Linked DNA regions of Homo sapiens. The protein of the gene in region 1 interacts with the protein of each later gene in a biochemical or structural test. Each region holds a gene or a part of one and is shown on either strand. Other genes may lie near its edges.

Region 1 (7,272 bases):
GCCTCAGCCTCCCGAGTACCTGGGATTACAGGCACCCGCCACTACGCCAAGCTAATTTTTATATTTTTAGTAGAGACGGGGTTTCACCATGTTGGCCAGGCTGGTCTCAAACTCCAGACCTCAAATGATCTACCCACTTCAGCCTCCCAGGGTGTTGAGATTACAGGCTTGAGCCATCGCACTTGGCCAGGAGGGACTTTACTTTCTTTGCACATGCTTTTGCACTTTGTTTCTCTTTTGAACTGTGTAATAACCTTTTTCCTTTTTTTTTTTTTTTTTTGAGGCAGGGTCTTGCTCTGTTACCCAGGCTAGAGTGCAGTGATGCGATCTTGGCTCACTGCAGCCTTGACCTCTCAGGCTCAAATAATCCTCCCACCTCAGCCTCCCGAGTAGCTGGGACTACAGGTGCGCACCATCATGCCCAGCTGTTTTTTTTTTTGTTTTTGTTTTTTTTTTTTTTGCATTTTTTGTAGAGATGGGGTCTCACCATGTTGCCCAGGCTGGTCTTGAACTCCTGGGTTTTAGCGATCTTCCCTCCTCAGCCTCCCAAAGTGCTGGGATTACAGGTGCCTGGCCCCTTTTTCTTTTTTTTTTTTTTTTCCCTCAAGACGGAGTCTTGCTCTGTCGCCCAGGCTGGAGTGCAATGGCGTGATCTCGGCTCACTGCAACCTCGGCCTCCTGGGTTCAAGCGATTCTCCTGCCTCGGCCTCCCGAGTAGCTAGGATTACAGGCATGCGCCACCACACCCGGCTAATTTTTTGTATTTTTAGTAGAGATGGGGTTTCACCATGTTGGCCACACTAGTCTCAAATTCCTGACCTCGTGATCTGCCCGCCTTGGTCTCCCAAAGTGCTAGGATTATAGACGTGAGCCACCGCGCCCGGCCCCTTTTTCCTTTTTTTTTTTTTTTTTTTGAGATGGAGTCTCAGTCGGCCAGGCTGGAGTGCAGTGGCGCCATCTCAGCTCACTGCAACCTCCTCTGCCTCCCGGGTTCAAGCGATTCTCCTGCCTCAGCCTCCTGAGTAGCTGGAACTACAGGCGCGTGCCACCACGCCCGGCTAATTTTTTGTATTTTAAGTAGAGACGGGGTTGTGTTAGCCAGGATGGTCTCGATCTCCTGACCTCGTGATCCGCCCGCCTCCGCCTCCCAAAGTGCTGGGATTACAGGCGTGAGCCACCGCGCCCGGCCTCTCGTTTTCCGTTTTTAAGGAAGCTCCTACTGAGTAATGGTGAAGGGGAGAGAAGAGATCCCTGGGAAAACCTTATCAATCACCTGGGTTCTGAATATTCCCAGTGACTGCACTGAAGGTGACAACAGTCCAGAAATGTCGCCGCTGCGGTGAATCCATCCATCGCCCCTCGAAGCCTTGCCCTATCTTGGCTGTCATACCGTCTACGGCCAGCAGGGGGTAGCACAGATCCACCAATGTGTTAGTCCCAAGCTTCAGTCATCCCTTCTAGGATTTCCTCCTCTGTGGGCCAAGATGGGAAAGATACCTCCTGCCAAGCAAATGAAATTTACTACGTAATAATTGATTCCATCTTCTCATTTTTTTTGTAACTCACAGTTCTGATCAGCATGAGAGAGAGGGAGAATGAATATAGGCTTGCAGAAACAATAATTTTCCACAGAAGAGGTGTTACTTAGCCCAGCTTTATTCCACCAGGCCTTGGGTGAAGAGTGGCTGGCAATGGCTTGAGAAGCCCCCAGGATTGAAGATACAGTCTGATAACTACTGCATTCGTGGCTCCCCGCCTGGCTTGGGTTTCCAGCTGCAGGGCACGCTCCTACCCTTCTCTTTTCCTCTCACAGAAGTAGTTCTGGGCAAGAGGAAGCATGAACAGCTGGTCCCATAGGATGACTTGAAGCAGCCACTCTCCTAGAGAGGTTAAAAGTCTGTCCCTCGCTAGGCTGCAAGCAGCCCAAGGACCAAGGCATTTCTCATCTGCCACAGAATCTGCAGGACCAAGCACAGTGATGGGCATGTAGCTGATGCTAAGTAAAGGTTTATTGTTCAATTGAAAGAGACAGCCATTGAGGAATCAGGGAATCCATTCTTTAAAAAAATGTGTTTTTATTCATTAAAAAAAAAAGTCTTCCAGGCTGGACGGGGTGCCTCATGCCTGTAATCCCAGCACTTTGGGAGGCCGAGGCAGGCGGATCACTTGAGGTCAGGAGTTCGAGACCAGCTTGGTCAACATAGCAAAACCCCGTCTCTACTAAAAATACAAAAATGAGCTGGGTGTGGTGGCACGCACCTGTGGTCCCAGCTACTGAGGAGGCTGAGACTGGATAATTGCTTGGACCTGGGAGGTGGAGGTTGCAGTGAGCTGAGACCGAGCCACTGCACTCCAGCCTGGGCAACAGCGAGAGACTCCATCTTAAAAGAAAAAAAAAAGTCTTCCACGACAGTTATCTTATAGAGACAAGAAGAAGAAGAAAGAAGGAGAAGAAGAGGAGGAGGTCCTAGCTAATCTCAAGGGCAAGGACCCAAGGGCAAGGCTCTGGTCTGTCTGAGAAGGAGAATATGGCAGTGTGCAGGGAATGGATCATTTTCCCTGCATGCCCAAGGAGAATTCTGCTTTGACTCACCTTGGAGGTCCTTGGTCAGGCCACGAAACCAGTGATCACATCTCTCACCCATCTGGGGTGCTGGTGACCTTGGCAGAAGAAAGGCTTAAACCAGGTCAGCCTGGGGGAAGGGGCTGGCTCCTTCCAGGGTCTTCCTCCAGATTAGATGTTAACTCTCCGTCTCTTGCTTAAAGTCTTGTCAGTGGCTCTGAATGTGAGGGCAGAAGGAGGAGGATGCTGTCAGGGGAGGGGACACTAATGGCTCCTGACCTGGCCTAGAGATAATTCGGGGCTCCTTCAGCGGGCCCTCCCTCCTCAGTGCCCTGGAAGTGTAGGGAGGGGTCAGTTGGGGATCCCCACAAATTAAATGGGGAATGAGAGGAGCAACTGAAAGTCTCAAATTCAGGCTATAGATGGGACCCCAGCCCCCCATACTCTCCCGTCCTACATGAGATGGGCAGTGGAGGGCCAGGACAGCAACTCCAAGCCAGTGTAGGTTTTGGAGGTAGACAGTGAGGAGGCTTGCTTCTGTCCTTTGTTAGCTGAGTGCCCTTGGACAGCTTACTTACCTACTCTCAGCCTCAGTTTCCCCATCTCTAAAATAAGGCTACCAATACCTACCTTCTCTGGCCATTGTCAGGATGAATGAAAGAGCTCTGAAAGTATTTCTGTAATTAGCAGACATCAGAGATTGTTATTCTCCAAGGTAAGAGGCCCCCCTAGATCCCTGGCGGTGACAGTGTCAAGATTCTTTTTCCCTCCTCTGCGGTGCCCACTCCTTTTCCAGCCTTGTGGCTGGCTCTCATCCTCCTTTCCGCAACCCCCCACTCCTCCTTGGGACCACCTTGGCGGGCCCAGCTTCTCGCAGCCTGCCATATTCCATAGGTGCCCCCATTCTAAAACCTGTAGGGGTGCCCTGCACAGGCGCACGGTTGGTCGAGGTGGGACAGGTGGCGGGGGTCTCCACTGGCCTGCGTCCGCGCCCCCCACCCTGTTTAGGAGTTCCTGTTTGGAGATGGCTCCCCCTCGTCCTCAGCTCGTCTCTGGGCTAAGCAGGGGAGGAGAGAAATAAAAGGTGGGGGGCCTGGAAGGGGGTTCCCACCTTCTCAGTCCGGGACGCGAGACGGGAACGCAGCCCTGGCGCCCCAACGCTGCACCACCGTGGGTCTCCGAGCCGTGCTCGCAGTCGCTGAGATCCTCGGTGCGGAGAAGATGTGCCCCTCCAATCCCCAGGCCGTGATCCCCTTCACCCAGACCCGGCCAATCCCTCGCCCGAGGCGAGCGGGAGGATGCGGTTCTAGGACCCGGAGGCGCCGCCGAGCGCGCCGCCGCCTCGGCCTCGCCTCGGTGGCCTCCCGCTCCGGCAGGTGAAGCGGCGCCGGCCGCCCCCTCTGCGGCAGGTGAAGCGGCTCGGCAGCCCACTCCCCGCCCGCCATGGTTGCGGGGGTCCCCCGGCCAGCGCCCGCCCCCTCCCTCCAGCCCGCCCCCCTGGGGCTGGGTGCCCGGCGGCGGCGGCGGCGAACTGCGGTTTGCGCGCACGGGGAGCGACAGCAGAAGTTCGAAAATCGCCGAGGGGGGAGCCAGCGCCGCAGCTTCCTGCCCCCGGCCCAGCCCTCTGGCCCCGGCGGCCTGCAGCCTGACTTCCTCCCCCAACCCTGCAGCTCGCCGCCCGGTCCCACGGACGGGGCCGCCCCGATGGGACGCCGCGCTCCGGCCCCTGCGCGCCGCTGAGCCGAGCGCCCCCCGCTGCCGAGACCCCCGCCGCCACCGCCAGCCGCTGCCCCCTCGCCCCCGCCCGGGCCGGGAGCCTCGTCCCCGTCCCCCGGAAAGCTGGATTTCCGAGGCTGGAGGCGCCTGGCCGGCTGGGTGGGGACCACCATGGGCAACGCGGCCGGCAGCGCCGAGCAGCCCGCGGGCCCCGCCGCGCCGCCCCCCAAGCAGCCCGCGCCTCCCAAGCAGCCGATGCCCGCGGCCGGAGAGCTGGAGGAGAGGTTCAACCGCGCCCTGGTGAGTGCGACCCGGAGGCGGGTCGGGCGCGGGCGGGGGGCGGCAGGGGCGCGGCAGGGGCTGGGCGCGCGTCCCCGCCCCCGGGGACTCAGGTGCCGCTTGGAGATCCCCGGTCCGGCAGCTGCCCCCTCCAGGAGGTGGGAGCGACAGTGGCCTTTTTTTCAGAGTGACTTAGCACTCTCCCCCCAAAACTTTCTTCAGTTATCGCCCGGTCTCCCTCCCTAAGACGCCTCCACCCCAGCTGGGTCTTAAGGTCTAAACAAGTATGTCCTGTGAAGAAGTTGGGAGCGGGGCACGCACAGGGGTCCCGGGTCGCCCCCTTCCCCACTGCACGCAGGCCCAGCCACCGGGCGCGGGTCTGGGGCATCTGCCTTTCTGTGTCTGGAGTCAAAGATGAAAGGGTTACAACCTCCCGGGAGCGGGAGACCTGCTGGAGGTGTTGGGTCCTGATTTGTTGGGCGCCTGGGCTGCGGGGAATGGGGTTGTCGGATCATGGCCAGGAGGTATCTGTGTTTCTACCCCGCCATATGTCAGAGCCAGGGTGCCTGTGGGTCTTTATCTTGGGGCATCCTTTCCAAGCCACTGAAGGGAGTAAGATGAGGGAGGGTGGGGTCAGGACGGGTGGGTCGCCCAGGCTAGGGGTGGAGCAAAATCTGGAACCACCCCCCTCTGTGCCTACCTGGGGAATTGGAGCGGGGTCGCTGGGGAATAGGTCTCTGGGAGGGAACCAGCAGCTCAGGCCGAGCCTGGAAACAGTCAACATGTTCAGTGGGGTGGGGGCTCCAGAGCAGACTCAGGGGTCTCCAAGACCCTGCATAAGGCAGAAGTAGGGAGAGGAAGAGCTGCTCACTCTCACTCTCCCCACCCCCGACGCCCTGGCCCTGGCTCCCTCCTCTAACTAATTGCCTGGTGGCCTGCCTGCTGTCAGCCTTCCCTTGCTGGACGCTGGGTGACAGGCAAAATGAGGCTGTGCCTTCTCCCAGATGCATTTCCCAGTCCCTGCAGGTCTGAGGGTGGGGGCTCAACGGAGACACAGGCCGCAGAGGGTTCTGGCTCAGTTGGTGGCCCTCCATCTCCTTGACATCATTTCCCCTCGCCTGGCTGGTCATTAGGCCATACGTGCTAGATCCTCAGCATGGCTCCAGAGGGTCACCTCCTAACAGTTCCTGAAAATGTTGGCTTCTGTCCTCTCCCAAGAGAAGGCTGGGGGGAGTTTGGAGGAGCTATGGGGTGGCGAGGGATCCATCCTTGTGAAGACACCTTGCTTGATTAGAGGAGGGCAGGGACACTGAGGGACGCCTCACACCAGGCTGGCCCCTGACTTCTCCATCTCTCCACCTGCCCTGCTCCCCGCTCCCCAAGCATAGGACTTCACAAAGCTGAGCTGAGCTGAGCAGATGGGGGAGGGGGGAGAATGAGGAGACACAGTCTCTGGGGGCCATCTGGAGAGCCTGCATTGGTGGTGGGTCCTTGGACCCCTGCCAACCTGGTTGGAGGGACATGGGTCTGTCTTTCCGCCAAGTGTGTGTCTATGGTCGCGGGTGTGGGCTCTTGGGGTGAGGTCCTGACCCCAATCTTCTGTTTAGCACGCTGATGGGGAGGAGCCCTGTGAATAATTCAGACCAGGGGAAAATCCACAAGTCAAATGGTGAGGTTCTGATGTGTGTGTAGGACTTGTTTGCCCTGCTTGGATTTGTGGCTGTGATTGGCTGAGTCTGACACTAAATGCCACTGGGAGTCCCTGAGTACCAGGATGTGGAGGGGGGACACCCACAGGTGGGTCAGAGAGGGTGTGCTGGTGGAGAAAGTGGAGGTGCCTAGCAGAAATTTAGGGTAGCAGCACCCACCAGGGCTTACCCCCTACCAGGTGCCCAGGAACCCCAGTGTGTTTATACCTTCTTCCCGGGGTGGCTCAGCCTGTCTTATATCCTGTTGTGGGCAGGTTAAACCCAATCTAAGGACACTTGGCTAAGACCCTGGTTCCTCTCATTCCCCACCAGCAGGGGCATGAGGCTTGCCCCAGGGTGACAACCTTGACCTCTGCCTGAGGCTGCCCAGGGCTAAAGAGTTGGTTCAACCCTCAGGTCTGGCAGTGTGTATCGCAGAGTTGGTCGCTATGTGAACCCCCACCCGAACCACCATGGCCAGAGCTGAGTCCTGTCCTCGGTCAGTGTCTAAGAGGAGAAGAACCTTAGATTGCTGAGGGGAGGGGCCCACCGCCATCAGTGGTCCCCAGTCTCAATGGGAGAAGCACAGTCCTGCCCTCAGGGATGTAGTCCAGCGGCCCCAGGGAACCTCTTCCTTCCCCTTTTGTCCCTGGTGGGGCATAGGATCCTGATACCCCAAACTCTCCTTCCTCTCCTGGCTGTAGGACCTCTCTTGTGGGTGAGGGGTGTCCCCACTTACAGCCAGACAGGAGGTGCAGGGAGCCCTTCTCCCATGCAAGGGTGGGTGGTGGGGGGCTACCTTTCCAAGAAAGCTGTGAAAGAAAGGGGTGCCCCCTGCTTAAAATGGGGGTGGAGAGAAAGAGCAGGTTGAGCCAGGGTTTCCGGCTGCTGCCTTAGCAACAGCAGAGGAGCGATGGCTGCCCAGCCCCACGGGCCTGCTGTGATGGTGGGAACACCAGCCAGCGGGGCGCCAAGCTCTCGCCTCTCCTACGCCCATGCCCAAGGCTGGGTGTCTTCCAGCCCCTT
Region 2 (8,095 bases), about 35 Mb from region 1:
TTTATATTTAACTTGCTTTTTCTTCCTTTTTCTTTTTTTTAGACAGGGGCTTGCACTGCTGCCCAGGCTGGAGTGCAGTTGTGTGGTCATGGCTCACTGCAGCCTCGATCTCCTAGGCTCAAGTGATCCTCCCACCTCAGCCTCCTGAGTAGCTGGGACCACAGGGATATGTCACCACGTCCTGTGGCTAAATTATTTTATTTATTTTCTATTTTATTTTATTTTTTGTAGAGACAGGGGTCTTACTATGTTGTCTGGGCTGGTCCTAAACTCTTGGCCTCAAGGGAACCCACAGCCTCAGCCTCTCAAAGCATTGGGATTACAGGTATGAGCGACCACGCCTGGCTATGTTTAACGTTGTAAAGAAATGGAAACCTTTCCATTTCTCTGCCATCCATAGGCTGATAGAAAGGTGTATAAGGTTGTCTTGGGTAGAAATGAAATACCAGCCACCACATAACTAACAAATGCACAGTGTCTAGAGAAAGCTCTGACACAGGTTTATACAACAACTTAGCAAGTAGAAAATCTAAATATGAACAGGGTCCAAACAATCTATGCAAAAGATCAAGAAGTACTGAATGCCTGCTTTTTGTATGAGTCAACGTTAGGCTTTAAGAAGGATAGATAGGCTAGGCATGGTGGCTCATGCCTGTAATCCCAGCACTTTGGTAGGCAGAGGTGGGTGGATCACCTGAGGTTAGGAGTTCGAGACCAGCCTGGCCAACAGGGCGAAACCCCATCTCTACTAAAAATACAACATTAGCCGGGCGTGGAGGCGCATGCCTGTAATCCCAGCCACTCAGGAGGCTGAGGCAGGAGAATCACTTGAACTTCGGAGGTGGAGGTTGCAGTGAGCCAAAATCATGCCATTGCACTGCAGCCTGGGTGACAAGAGTAAAACTCAGTCTAAAAAAAAAAAAGATAGATGGAAATTTAAAACAAAGATGCTATCCCTCTCCTGAGTTACTAACAGTCTAACCAGTAAAATAAGACTTAATAATAATTATTATTTTTTTAAAAAGCAAAAGTAGGCTAGGTGTGGTGGCTCACGCCTGTAATCTCAGCACTTTGGGAGGCCGAGGCGGGCAGATCACGAGGTCAGGAGATTGACACCTGCCTGGCTAACACGGTGAGACCCCGTCTCTACTAAAAATACAAAAAATTAGCCGGGCGTGGTGGCAGGCGCCTGTAGTCCCAGCTACTTGGGAGGCTGAGGCGGGAGAATGGCATGAACCCAGGAGGCGGAGCTTGCAGTGAGCCGAGATAGTGCCACTGCAGTCCAGCCTGGCTACAGAGCGAGACTCCATCTCAAAAAAAAAAAAAAAAAAAAAGCAAAAATAAATTAGCCAGGCATGGTGGTGTGCACCTGTAGTCCCAGCTAGCTTCTCTGGAGGCTGAGGTGGGAGGATGGCTTGAGACGCGAGGCAGAGGATGCAGTGAGCCAAGATCACACCATTGCACTCCAGTCTGGGCAATACAGCCAGATCTTGTCTCAATTTAAAAAAAAAAAAAGCAAAAATAATTAAAGATTTAAATACAATTTCAAGATAGTAATATAAATCAGAGAGGGAGAAGGCAGGAGGGAAAATTGATAAGGGAGGAATTTATCTTTCCTTCAAGATCCTGGGAGAAAACAGAAAGCCAAAGTGTGTTTCTACAAAATTTGTGGCATCCCAAAGATGTAAGAGTTCCTCCTTCTATTGTTGCTCTAGAAATCTTAGTTAAAAAAGAAGTGTTACGTAATAAATCACCAGGACCCTTGAACTGGATAGATAAAAACAATCGCTAACATAGGGGCATTTAATGTGCCAGGCACTGCTCTAAACAGTTTACATGCTTCCTCACTTAATCTTCTTAATAACTCTATGATATTAATACTACTGTTGTCTTCTTGTAGTGATGAGGAAAATGACGCTCAGAGACGTAAGTAAATCACCCAATGCCACACAGCTAGAAAGTGGCAGAAATGGGGTTTGAATAAAGGCAGTCCAGAGCCAACATATTTAACCACTAACTACATTTAACCATTTAAATTCCCATATTCCAGTTACTGGATTCGATCTCCAATTACAGACGGGGAAATAGACCCAAAGGTATGGGAAGACTTGAGGATTTGGAGGTTACCTGATTGATAAGAGATCAGCAACAGGAGTTCCACTAACTGCTAGTCCAGTCTTATTTCTATGAAGACTGACATTGGGTATCACCAGAGAGTCTTTTCTTTTCTTTTCTTTTCTTTTTTCTGAGATGGAGTCTTGCTCTGTCGCCAGGCTGGAGTACAGTGGCGTGATCTCGGCTCACTGCAACCTCCACCTTCCAGGTTCAAGCGATTCTCCTGCCTCAGCCTCCTGAGTAGCTGGGATTACAGGCACGCGGCACCACACCTAGCTAATTTTTGTATTTTTAGTAAAGATGGGGTTTCACCATGTTGGCCAGACTGGTCTCAATCTGCTGGCCTCGTGATCCGCCCGCCTTGGCCTCCCAAAGTGTGGGGATTACAGGCATAAGCTCTCACAGGCTGTGCCCAGCCTAGAGAACTTTCTCTTAAGATGCTATTTGTGGGTGAGTCACTAGGATACCTGCTTTCTGACTGGCAGGGGGGACGACAGAAAGCAACACCAGTGTACAATAAGCTAGAATTGAGTTCAAAGCTGATTCTGCTGTTGACCAGCTGTATGATGGTGAGCAAGTCACACTCTTTGAGCCCAGTTTCTTTACCTGAAAACTGGGACAACAGTCACCTCATCAGCTCGTAGGATTACAGGAATGAAATGAATTAAGTGGAGAAATTAACAGCTATTATCATTTTTGGTTGCTGCAGGAATGTTTGAGGTGGGTCAGGTAGAACTCAAGTGTATGGCATGCTGTGTAGGCTGCGATTTCTCAAGTCCAAACTGGATCACAGTTCCTCACGGGCATGCAGAGAATTAGGGTTGCAGGATGGCTGGAAATCAGTTGTCCTACCTTGATTCAGGCCACATCATCAGGAATGAAGCCTCAGAACAGCCTGCTGGAAGTCACATATTTTCCTGATACAAGGAATTGTATCTCTTTTAAAACTTCATTGGGCCAGCTATTTTTAATGACTGTTTTTGATATGAAGTTATGCAGCTCCGCTTTAAGGGACTCTTAGTGGTGACTGTGGTCAAGAGTTTGTTTCTTTATATTTCCGGCCAAGCGAATGTTCAAGACTTTGCAATTGATGGACTATTACAAATAATCTGCTTGTGTCACTTTGCCCATGGCCAGAGAACAGATGGAGGCTGCTCAGGTGAGATGGCTTAGCTGCAGACTAGGGCTCAGTAGTGACTCTTAAAACCTGGGCATGAGTATTTTTAAAAAGTTGCATAATGACTGTAATGTGCAGCCAGGATTGAGAACCATTGAACTAGGTGAAAGGCTCTGTGCCAGGGTCTGATTCAAAGCATAGACAGGTGCGCAAGATCTTCAGGCTCTTGGAGCCCGGCCTGACTGGTTTTGTAATGGATATCTAGGCAGTCATAGTAAGAGGTGAAGCTAGAGGAGGCGTTGTGGAGGGCCTGAAATGTACAGGCAGAGAAGTTTGTACCAAATTTAAAAGGCAATAGGGAGCCACAGAAGGTGACTGGGGGAGGGGGGAAGGAGTAGACAGAGGTATACAGGCGTATTAAAGGGTCCAGCTTTTTTTTTTTTTGAGACGGAGTTTCACCCTTGTTACCCAGGCTGGAATGCAGTGGTATGATCTCCGCCCACTGCAACTTCCACCTCCCGGGTTCAAGCCATTCTCCTGCCTCAGCCTCCTGAGTAGCTGGGATTACAGGCACCCGCCACCACGCCCGGCTAATTTTTGTATTTTTAGTGGAGATGGGGTTTCACCTTGTTGGCCAGGCTGGTCTTGAACTCCTGACCTCAAGTGAGCCATTCGCCTCAGCCTCCCAAAGTGCTGGGATTACAGGCGTGAGCCACCGCGCCTGGCCGAGTCCAGCTATTTACAGGCTAAAAAATGTACTTTATTTTATTTCTTTAAAATTTTTTATGGAGTAGACTAGCAAAGAAACCAAGCTTTCTTTTACTTCTGTACGGTCAGTTCAAGGTCAACATTCTGCAGCACTCAGGTTCACTGGTCCCTGGAGAGCAGGGACTGGCCCAAATGATGTTTGTAGTACCTGGCACATCGCATGGAACATGGCAGCCTCCTGGTAATGTTTGTTGACTGACTACATGAGTGTAGACTCTTTAGCCAACCCATCTCGATTTCGGGAGGGCTGGTACCCTGGGCCGGCCTTCCCTCTGCAAGTAAAAGCATTGGTGCTGTTCCTCTCACCGTTCGCCTTTCCTCCATTTATCCCCATCGACTGTTTCCAATTCTATCAACTCCGACCCCGTCTTCTCTCCATTCCGTCCCTCCAGCGTGCCACGCTGCCACCAGGCTGCTGGGCTCAGGCGCCAGGCTTCAAACCTGTCTTTCACCCATTGTTCAGTTTCCGGTGAGACAAGTTCAACCCCAGGTTCAACCACTACAATGACAACCACAAACGATCCCTCGCAGACACCTCGAAGAAGCCGCCCGCACGCCACGGGCCGCCAGGCCTACAAAGCAGGCACAGAACAGAGGGGCGTTTCCATTCCCGCGGTCCCCGGCGGTGGGGGCGCGAGTGGGAGCCCCTCTCCCCAGTGACAGGCCCCTCTGCGAGGGAGCGCGCAGCCCTCCGCGGGCGTGGCCGCCCTGGCCCCGCCCCGGCCCGCCCCCTCGCCAGTGAGCTAACCCCCGCCCGGCCACCCGGCCGCCAGCTCCTCTCCACGGCCGCCCGCCGCGGAGTCCTGCCGCGGGGGATGCTCCGGGTCCCACCTCCCGGGGGAGCTGCGCATTTCCGCGCGCCAGGGCGGCCCCGGCCCCGGTCCCGGCCCCGGCCCCGGCCAGCCCTCGCGGCGGCAGCCCGCGTTCCGCGTTCCCGGGAAGTTGTCTCCGGAGCCCGCGGCGCCTGGGTCTCCTCCCCCTGAGCCCCGCCCCCCAGCCCAGAGCTAGGATCCGCGAGCTGCCCGGCCCGGGGGCGTCGCCGCTCGCTCTGCGAAGCCAACGAGTCTCTGCTTCCCGGCGCGGAGCGCGCGTCCCCCGCCTGCCTGAGGACCCCCGCGCACCCCAGAGACGGCGCGCGCCCAGAGCGCGGGAGCCCGGAGCGCCGGGCGCCTGGGACCCCGCGGAGCCGCTGCCCAGCCCGTGGGGCTCGGCGGGAATGCAGGCTGCGCTGTGAACCCGGGCGCCAAGGCCATGTCCGGCGCTCGCTGCCGGACCCTGTACCCCTTCTCCGGGGAGCGGCACGGCCAGGGGCTGCGCTTCGCCGCGGGCGAGCTGATCACGCTGCTGCAGGTCCCGGACGGCGGCTGGTGGGAAGGCGAGAAGGAGGACGGGCTCCGTGGCTGGTTCCCGGCGAGCTACGTGCAGTTGCTGGAGGTAAGGGGCGAGGGCCGGGGCTGTAGGAGCCGGGGCTGCGGTCCTCGGTGCGCTCGCGTACCTGTTGCCCGTTCCGGGGATGCCGCAGCGTCCCGGTCGGAGGGGCGCCCCGGGGGGCAGCCCTTGCCGGCGCTACCTGTAGCTCCACGCTCCTGGGGGGCAGCGACGGCAGCGGGCGCCCCTCGGGGCGTGGGCAACGCGGACTCGCGGGGAGCTTCCACCTTGCGCCGGGCCTCCGGAGCACACCGTGGCTGCTCTGAGGAAGCGAGAACTTGTTGCCTGTGTGAGTTAAGGAGCAGGCGGGAGCGTTCCCGGCAGTGGCAGGGGCCGGTGAAGGGTCTGGCGGTCTTGGGAAGAGGCACGGAGGATCAGGGGTGCGAGAAAGTGGCACCGACTCGGTCCCGCAGCCCCGCGTCTCCACCCCGGAGTCTAGAGCCTGATGACCCGTGGACGGTCGTGCTGCCTTGGGTCAGGCTGCCTGGCCGCCTCGGGACCACCCACTTGCTGGTCAGCCGAGCCTGCTGGCCACCAGCCCGAGCCCCCTCAGCAGGCTTGATCCTGGGGTGCCGTAGCACCCCCCGCCACTGCCTGCTCCCCTGGTCCAGCTCCCCGAGGCTAAGGCTCAGAACCCGAAAGTGGCTTGTTCCTGGGGTTCTGGCCTGGCCCCAGGGCTGCACAGGACCTGCTGAGGCAAGGCGGCTGGCTGTTTATTGTCTATGTGACAGGCTGTCCTCTAATCACTGAGCTCGCAGTCACAGCCTGAGTGAGACCCGAAGTTTCTAAAGTCCTTTGTGTGTGGGGGGGTGACCTTCCAGGACATCCCCTTTACTAGAAGCCCGCCTGCCCCCAGGATTCTTGTAAAGACTAAATTAACAGTTACCTTCAATGGTGTCAGTATTCCTAAACATTCTGGTAAAACACTGCCGGAAGAAATCATGGAGGCTGAATTTATTTATTATTTAACTCTTGACCTACTTCACAGAGAAAGTAGCAAATTTTGACTGAGAATGCTCAGTGCAATTCATCGGGGGCGGGGGGAAGAAAGAAAGAAGTGAAATGGTTACAGGGTGAGTCCGCCTGAGGATGTATCCTGTGGCAACATTGTCAGCAAGAGCCTGGCCTTATAAAAGTACATTAGATTGCTTTCAGGTCCAGAGAACAACAAAATCTCTCCTAAAGGCATCAGTAGCATTTGAGCAAAGTTTAGGGGCTGCTGGAATGAGCTTTCATGGGCTGTCAGCAGAGTATGTTGCAGGAACCCTCTTGGTTCTGTATCTGGAGAATCCGGAGATACCCTACTTGTAGGAGAGGCTCAGGTGTGCCCTGCCCTGGCTTTTCCAGTTCCTTTCCCGAGATTCGGATGTAAAAGAAAGCGAACGTATTGCTTCTTACATGAGAAGCAAGGGGCCTCCTTGTTTCTAGCTTGAAGCCCTGGGATAGATACGTATTTTGGGAGTTCTTCGGGTGGTCACCCTTTTCCAGGAAATTCTGATGTGGAAATTTGGCTGATGGATGTCTGTCCGGTGAGGAGCATCCCTGGCTGGACTGAGCCAGCTGTGTTTTGTGTAGGGGTGAGGCTGGGTAGGTGTTAGTTAGCAAGAGTGGAGTGCTGCTTTTTCTTCCGGGAAAGGGACGATGGACCAGGGCCAGGGGACAAGCGGAATTAACAACTGGGACAGTTTTGGGTGTGTCTGTCCCATCCTCTGGCATATACAAAGGTAAGAGATCTCTGGTGTCTCAGGGCCTCTCAGACCATTCCTGACTAGTAACTTGCAACAGAAGCATCCATCTGCGTGAGCAATACTTCTGAGCACCTGCTTGGCACAGTGTGTGCACGTTATCACCAGTTCCCTGACAGCTCTGTGAAGGGTGAGGTACTTCCCCCATTTTATAGACAAGCAAGCTGAATATGAGAGAGGCGAAGTCAGCTCCCCAACTAGTAATGCTTGCGTGTTTTGTTAGCAGCTCAGATGACTGAGTATCACCCCCTGCGCCTGTGCCTTTTTTAAACATGATAGCCCGGGCTCAACTATGCCAAACAGCGTGTGAGCGAAGGGTCTGGATCCATGGGGAAAAGGGGCATGCGCAGCCCCTGAGGTCAGCATGTTGGTGACAGCACCGCGAAGGGGAGGCTGAACCTCTAGGGCTAAAACGAGGACAGCTGCATCCAGGAGCAACTTGGAGGATCTTCCCTGCTAACCCCAAAGTGTGACTTTACTCAGAACCAGCTGGGGGTCTTCCCACAGTGGGCCCGAGTCCTGTATCCTAAGTACTGGGTGGGACTCTTCTCAGGGCCAAAGCAGATGCAGTTTCAACAGGGGGGCATGTGGGTCAGGTGCTTGGCATCTGGGAACCTCCTACATGAGCAAGTTGGACCTCAAGGCTGAAGGCTAGGTAGAGATAGAGGACATGCAAGCAGAGTTGCTTGGGATGGGGTGAGTCCTGAAGGGCAGACTCAGAGAATGCAGAGGTCCCCAGGCTGGTGGGTAGACTGGCCAGCATCTGGACTCATGAGACTAGAGAGGGGGCCCATAGATACTGGAGATGGCGAACCTCATGAGATGTCAGCCAATGTGGTGCTGTCACTCAGCTTGCTTGGGAGCATGGAGTTCAGAAGGCCAGGGCAGCTGTTGGAGAAACAAGTACAGACAGATGGACTGT
Region 3 (7,467 bases), on another chromosome or scaffold:
CTTTTGGGAAGCTGAGGAGAGAGGATCACTTGAGGCCAGGAGTTTGAGATCAGCCTGGGCAACATAGCAAGACCCTATTGCTACAAAAATAAAAAACTTAGCCAGGTCTGGTGGTGCCTGCCTGTAGTCCCAGCTACTCAGGAGGCTGAGGTAGGAGAATCACTTGAGCCCAGGAGTTCAAGGCTACAGTGAGCTATGATCATGCCACTGCACTCCAGCCTGAGCAACAGTATGAGACCCCTCTAAAAACAAAGAAAGAAGGAGTAATAACCTAGAAATTAAATAAGAAAACAGAGGTTCAGCAGTTTAGAGGCTAAAGGAGTTCACTCAAGATCACATAGAGAGTAAGGGTAGGGTCAGACCTCAAACATGATTTTTATTATTGTAAATCCAGGTGTTTCTCCCCCCTAACCTACATTGCCTTGTTCTGAAAATTGAAGCGGATACTGTGAATACACTTTGAAAACTGTAAAATTATATACTAATGTGAAGCATCAGAAAACCCTTTTAAAAAATAGCTCTAAGTAATAAGTAATTTTTCAATGGCTCATTGCATGCTTTATACCAGTCCTTGTTGCAGCCCACTGAACCTTTCTCTATGCTTTGGTGTCAATATCCATCTTCCAAACCCAGAGCTATCCAGAATAGTGCCACAAATTACCATTTTAAACATGCGATGTCCTTCAGTTTACATTTGCAGATTTTGGTGAAATAGCATCTTCCAGTGAAGTCCACTGCGCTGGAGAGAGAAAGGTATAAAAAGACAGTCAGATGTACTTTACAAAAAATTTAATTGTGGCAAAAAATTAACAAAATTTACCAACTTAACAAGTTTTATGTGTGCAGAGCAGATGTGCTAAATATAATCACATTGCTGTGTAATGAATCTCCTGGGTTCAAGTGACCCTCCTACCAGAGTTTCCTGAGTAGGTGGAACTATAGGCGCCCTATACCACATTTTGTTTATCTGTTCATCTGTAGAATCAATGGACATTTGGATTGCTTCCACCTCTTGGCTATTGTGAATAATGCTGTTAATGAACATGGGTGTGCAAATATCTCTTCCAAGATCCAGTTTTGAATTATTTTGGATATGTACCCAGAACTGCTGGATCAGATAGTAATTCTACGCTTGATTTAGCACAAATTTTGTCAATCCAAAGAGCTGAAAGCTAACATAGAACTATAGTATATTTTTAAAGAGTCAGTTCATATTTGTGAGCTCAACATAAACATCTGACAAATTTTCCATTAAAAAAATTTTTATGTGTTCATTGATTCACATACATCTTAGCACGCTAATTCATTATTATTTTAACCCCTACAAAGAAGGGTAGAAAATGGGAAAAACATGATTCTATTCTAGACTTGGGTCTAACCTGTAACAATTCACCTAGCCTTCCTTATGACTGCCCTATTACTTACCATAGCTATTGCAAAGATGAATGGGTTAATATTTTAAATTTGTGTATGAGCTACTAAAAAGAAAAAGCAGTGGACAATGAATCACAGAACTTTGTAGCAGTAGGTTCTATGATTTATTTTCTAGTGTTTTCCCTTTTTTGAAATACATATACGATGTACACACACACAAATGTAAAATATTAACTTAGAATTTAAAAAAATTAAAAAGATTTTAAAATAACACATTTATCTCTGCAATAAATGAGAGCCTTTGGCTTTGCTGTTAGACATGATTACACTTAGACCAATTCAGAAAAGATTTCAAGAAAGGAAGAGTACACAGCTTTACCTGGGTAAATCAAAAAACTTGTAAAGTTTCTATCATTATCATGAAATTCATTTAAAATGAATTGTGGTTATTAACCTGCTTCCTCTGGCTCTATATCCAAAGACTTAGAGAATAACTGTCCACTCATATTTTGGATAATTACTTTCCTTTTAATAATAAAATTTCAATAAATAACTAAATTTTGAAGATTCATGTAGGGCATATATATGTTGATTATGGAAAGGGAAAGTACCATTTAGAGCTAGAAAGAGGTTTATTTGAGTCAAATAAAATGGCTATTTTACCAAATAGGAAGCAAATTCTTAAGGACTCTACACCCAAAAGCAGTTAGTGGCTGAAAACAAACAGATTTTAAAAGGGTTCAATTATGGGAACAAATGTGTAATGTCCAAAATAGTCTTTATTGGAGATAAGGATTAAGGCTAAGTCTCTATTTTTCATCCCATAAAAATCTATTTACATCTCTTTCAGAGAGAGAGAGTTTTGAGGAAAGAAAACTGAATTTGATGAACAACGGATCTGATTTAGGATGCCAATTGCAAATAATGATAGAAAACGGATTTTTTTTTTTTTGGTGCAAAATTTCATGGATAAAAATGAAAAACTTAAATGACCTCTCCTCTCCAACAGTACGGAAAATTTTGCCTGAATTTACCTAAAGTCTACGCCACGGACTTGATTCAGTGAAATAGGATGGTTGGGCAGGGCACTGAACCAGGGATCAAACTTAAGAGATGTGTGGTCGCATGACTGCAATTGAACTAGAAGCATTACATCAGGACTGACCACCTTGGCTAAACCACAGACTTTGTCCAGACAGTCTGCCCACTTAGATATATTCCAAGGGGATCATCAAACTGGTGGGAGTGGCTGAAACACCGAAATGATAACCTCCTTGTTGACTCCCACAGATCCAAGCCATAAGTGTTCCCATTTAGTTAAAAGCTACCGTTGCCCGCCACTAGCATGACTTACTTGGTAGGAGGGATGTCTGTAGAGAAAAGGTCTATTTCAGTATCAGCCAGCAAAACAGCCTTCATTCCCCTAGAGCTGAGCACTTGTTTACAGAATTTGCAACACAGGATGGACACGCACCTGTCCTTGAAACTACAAATGTTGGTAGACATGGCGTCGCAGGAAGGATGAGGTGTGGGATTTTGAAAAAGGAAACAAGAGTAATGCTCCTACTATTTTGATTCCCCTAGGCTAAAATTCAAATTGCGGGACCTAGAGCTTTTCTAAGTCCTAATATTGGGAAGGAAATTAGTTTTTTTTTCTGTTTTCCCGGTGGCGGAGTAGAAGAAGTATTTATTGAGTAGGAACAGGGGAGCGTGGCAAACTTGGCTTTCCTTTTAACTTTTGGAGAAGGGAGTGGAGTTTGAATTGGAGAGGAGGCAGGTGGAGTTTGAAGGGAACTTCTCAACGGCTTTCCCTTTCTGCTGTCTAAAGGAGTCCTCTACACTTCAGCTCCCGCCCCTTCATAGCAATTCCCTCAGCCTTCTCCGATCGTCTAATTTAAAGCTTCTCCTCTTTTAAGACATCCCTTCCCCAGCATTAAGCCCCTCCCCCGGAGCGCTCCGGTTCCCTGCTGTCGGATCTCGGGCTAAGCGTCCCTACCCACGCCTCCTCTTCCCAGGATTCAGAAACTCCCTTCTCTTTTTCTGCCAGGCGATCCCGGATTCTCCTCCGTCCCGCCCCTTTTCTCCCGGACCTTCCTCCGCTCTGCGGGTCCGCGGGCCCCTCTCCTGGCAACCCCCGGCCCTCAGCGTGCTCGCGCTGTTTCTCTCGCGTCCTCCCTTCCCTCAGCTGTCCCTCGTGCCCCCCGCAGTCCCCTCAGGTTTCTTCCCGGAGCGGCTGTTCCCGGGCGCGCGGTGGTGTTGGTGGGGCAGAGCTGAAGTCGCTTTAGAGGCTCAGTCGGCGCTGGGGTCTGTCACCGAACACGTTGGTTTTCGCTCCCTCTTCCGCTTTTCCTGCCTCTCCAACCCGGTATCAGTTTGAATTGCCAGCGCCGCGCACCGATTGGAAGAACTAGAGTTAGCCCCAGTCCCTCATTGGAAGGCTCCGGGGCCTCCCCTCACGAGAGCTTAGTGGCTTGAAGACCGTAGGCACCGCCCCAGTAACGGTGCTGAGATCAATTCGGCTTTCTGGTTGGCTGAGCTTGGCTCCGCCTCCGATCTCATTGGCCGGCTTCGGGAGGTTTCGGCAAACCCTGCCTTCGCCCTAGTGAAAGTGGCAAGGCACGCCCTTCCCGCTTCTTATTGGAAGAGGTTCTACAGTCTCCACCGGTCTCTACTCTTTATTGGTTAAAACTCCCCGCAACACCCCTCCTCTCTACCCCGGCCCAATTGGCCGTGCCTTAGCTCAAGAGTTTGTGTTTGGTCGTCGGTTCCACCTTAATCCCGCCCATCAGTTCTACTTAGGGGTTCAACAACCCGGGGTGGAGCTTAATCTGTGACCACGCCTCGGCAGTGCTAGTCACACCTCCAAGTTTTGCCAGCTCCTCCCCCTCATTCCGGGCCTCTCGGGATCAGCTCTTCCTATTGGCTATGGGCCCCATCGGTCGATAGAAAACGGGCGGTGATTGGTAAAGGGGTGGGCTCTACTTCCCGGCGGGGTCCTGCGGAGTTGGCGGAGGCTCCTCCAGGGACTGGGGCACCGATCTGCGTAGAAACGGGTGGCGGGGAAGAGAGGGGAGGAGAGCTCTGAGTGGGAAGCGGAGCCGGGGGCCTGGGACCCGTCGCGTCAGAGCCAGGTAAAGGCTCCTTCCCTCTTCCTTTTCTTCCTCCCGGCCGCCGGGCTGGAGCCCTGACTGAACAAACCGGGGCTGGGGCGGGAAGGAGAGGGCGCGGATGCTGCTCGCGGCATCGCCTTAGCGGTGCCGCCCGGAATCCCTCAGACCGCCCCCCCTCCACCCTCTCCAAATCTCCCAGTACAGCCCATAATACTTCTCAGGACTGCGAGTCTCTCCGCCCATCACTGTACAGCCTGGGACTCCGTCCTGGCTCACGGACCGCAGCGCAGCCGGCACCCAGCCGCCTCTCCCTTTCCTCCGCACACGGGCAGCCGCGGTCCACCGTAGGGCAGTCGTCGTTGGCATCGCGCGTAATCATCGGCCGGCCTCCTCCAGTGTCTCCCAGCCCTGGCGGACAGCCCGGGTCCCAGCCTAGGACCCAGGAGGATGGGTGTTCCGCGCAGCTTCCGGGGCTCTCCCCGAGTCCCACCCCCCGGCCCGCCCCGATGGACTTCTCTTCGCCCACTCCCATCCCTAGACCACATCTCGGCCCCCACAGTTCCTGACATCCTTGCGCTTCACGCAACATCGCGGCCCATGATCATGCCCCAATTCCCCTCACCTCTAAGGCAGCCTTCTCCTTGCCGCCTCCCGCCTTCCGAGCGTGTGCAACTCCAATTGTCCCCGGGCTCCCTTCCAGCCTCAGGACCCCATCTCACACCCGCCTCTCGCTTCCCGCTTCCCGCTCGCCTGAACCCCGCCGCCTCTGCTCCCTGTCTTGTTCCCTCAGCGTGGCCCCTTCCTCCAGCCGCGGGAAGTGGGAGACGCTAGCGGGAGCTTCCTCCTCCCGGCGCTCGGAGGAAAAGGAAAGACCAAGTAGAAAGGGTCGCCGCTGCGGCACGCGAGGGAGCTAGTCGCCGGGCTCCGCGCTCCCGCTTGCGTCCCTCCAGCCCCCTGGGCCTCGTCCGGGGCCGGATCTTCTCGGGCACCGCCTGGTGCGAGGAGTCAGGACTGCGACCTCACCGACCTCCTCCCATCCCCAGCCTGGGATTGGGTGGGATATCTGGGATCTCTGAGCTTGGGTGTCAAAAAAATATTGGGGGTGGCATTTATAGTCACTATCGTCCCTAGCTTGAGGGAGGCGACGGCTGCCTTCCGCTCGCCGCCCCCCGGTTTTCCCGGCTCCGACCCTATCCTCTAACCCGTTTCCTGCTTCAGCTGACCACATTGTTTTCCTGGATGTGTCCCGTGCCGAGCAGGCTTTTTCCTGCAGATTTGCCCCCCCCCCCATCAACATTTTGCTGCCAAGAGAAGCTAGTAACCAAAAACAAAACAACTGGGAGGAGGGGCGGGAGAGGAAGAAAAGTTGTGCCCTGGTGGCTTATCCCTCCCCGGCTTTGATCCCCTTTGATGTACAGGGAGGTGCCCCGGCCGGGGGTCTGGGGCCACGTCGGGGGCTAGGTCGGGAGGGCTCCCTCGGGCTGGCCGCTGCCCAGCGCTGGCGGGGCTCAGGAGGCCGCCGAGGTGCCGCAGTCCCCGCCTGGTGCCCCGCGTTCCTGCAGTCCCCGCCCGGAGCCCGCGCAGGCGGCTGCTCCAAAGTGTTTTCTTTCAGCCTTAAAATCCGGAGGGAGCTTCCTTCCTCCCCACCTCGTAGCGCCAGGCTCTGCGGGCGGGGAGACGTTAAGCGGACAGGAATGGGCCCAGGGCGGGCTCGGAACGACGTCCCCTACCCCACCCCCGCCGCGATTAGGATCTGCGCTCTGGCTGATCGCCCCCTCCCCCTTTTCCTGCATTTACAGGCAAGTGAACCGGAGCAAACGACTTCCGATCCAGTCTGCGCTGTTGCGGCTCCCGTTTGGGATTTGATTTGCAGCATCTTTGAGCCTCTACGACAAAAAACCGCGAAGCACGCCCAGCCCTCCCCCGGCACCCCGAAAAGCACCCACTCCCTCCCGGGGACACAGCTGGGCGCGTCCACACCCCCGCAGCCCCACACCATGTTGTGCGGAAGGACTTCCACTCCCCGCCTGTGTCGTTGATGTCAGACCCCAGGCCAGCCTCCGGGCGCTGCAGTTCTCCCGGCTAATGCTGAGGCTGCGGCTCCGGCTCTAGCACAGGCACCAGCCGCCGCCGCACCCGGCCCCAGCGCCCACCGTCTGCATGTGCCCGCCGTAGCCGTCTGCCCAGCCCGCAGCCCGCGCTCCACGGAGCGCTGGAGACCACCGTGGGGGGCCCCTTCTGCCCTCGAGAGAAGCGGTCTTGGAGGTATTGATTTAGGTGGTTGGATTTTTTCCGTGGATCTATCAATTCACAATTCGAATTTGGAAGAAAGAAGGAAAACATGACGTCTCCAGCCAAATTCAAAAAGGATAAGGAGATCATAGCAGAGTACGATACTCAGGTCAAAGGTAAGGGCTTTGAAAAATAGCACACTGCAAATGCTCTGTGGACTGGTGAGGCGTGTATTTCCACCGTGATTTGCAGGTTGTTCATTTCTTTGGGTGGAGCAGATGGGGGCAGGCTGACCCCAGAGGTGGTTTCATAGATGGGTCTGAACCTCCAAAGGATGGGCAATGCCAGGGGGCCATTGACACTGGAAAGGAATTTTTGCAGTGGGCTGTAGGAGTATCTTTGTGGGGCTGACCATGATTTTGGCAGCCCTTTCCCCCCCAAGCCGGACAGGGTGGGGGGAGGGGCAGGAGGCTCTTAGAGAAAGGCAGTTTGCCTCCGGTTCTCTGGGTCAGGTTTCCTTGAAAGACAACTGAAATCTGACAGGTGTTTGGACATTTGTTTCAGAGATTGAAGAGGAGTCCAGACAGAAAGGCAACCTTGGGAAGGTGTACCATTTGGAGAGCCTTGGGAGAGGCGGGGTTTTTCGGATGCACTATATTAAAACATGAGATTTGCAATGGCATTGGCACCAAAAGTCCATTGCCACCTTGGGTGTACCTTGTACCTGCCTGGTCTCTGGTCGGCCTGCATA

The links.
Region 2: the proteins of FMNL1 (region 1) and GAS7 form a complex in vitro, tested with the Homo sapiens proteins (one study listed by BioGRID).
Region 3: the proteins of FMNL1 (region 1) and SRGAP2 form a complex in vitro, tested with the Homo sapiens proteins (one study listed by IntAct).

The regions. Positions count from the first base shown.
Region 1 is NC_000017.11:45,217,675-45,224,946, forward strand, and holds the start of FMNL1 (formin-like protein 1), read left to right. Parts: upstream 1-4,210; 5' UTR 4,211-4,450; coding exon 4,451-4,579; intron 4,580-7,272. UniProt on the Homo sapiens protein: May play a role in the control of cell motility and survival of macrophages. Plays a role in the regulation of cell morphology and cytoskeletal organization. Required in the cortical actin filament dynamics and cell shape.
Region 2 is NC_000017.11:10,195,547-10,203,641, reverse strand, and holds the start of GAS7 (growth arrest-specific protein 7), read left to right. Parts: upstream 1-5,035; 5' UTR 5,036-5,251; coding exon 5,252-5,434; intron 5,435-8,095. UniProt on the Homo sapiens protein: May play a role in promoting maturation and morphological differentiation of cerebellar neurons.
Region 3 is NC_000001.11:206,199,146-206,206,612, forward strand, and holds the start of SRGAP2 (SLIT-ROBO Rho GTPase-activating protein 2), read left to right. Parts: upstream 1-4,395; 5' UTR 4,396-4,505; intron 4,506-4,698; coding exon of another isoform or gene 4,699-4,850; exon of another isoform or gene 4,851-4,962; intron 4,963-5,106; exon of another isoform or gene 5,107-5,568; intron 5,569-6,283; 5' UTR 6,284-6,825; coding exon 6,826-6,892; intron 6,893-7,467. Other genes in the region: protein FAM72A, read right to left, coding at 662-739, 2,729-2,880. UniProt on the Homo sapiens protein: Postsynaptic RAC1 GTPase activating protein (GAP) that plays a key role in neuronal morphogenesis and migration mainly during development of the cerebral cortex. Regulates excitatory and inhibitory synapse maturation and density in cortical pyramidal neurons.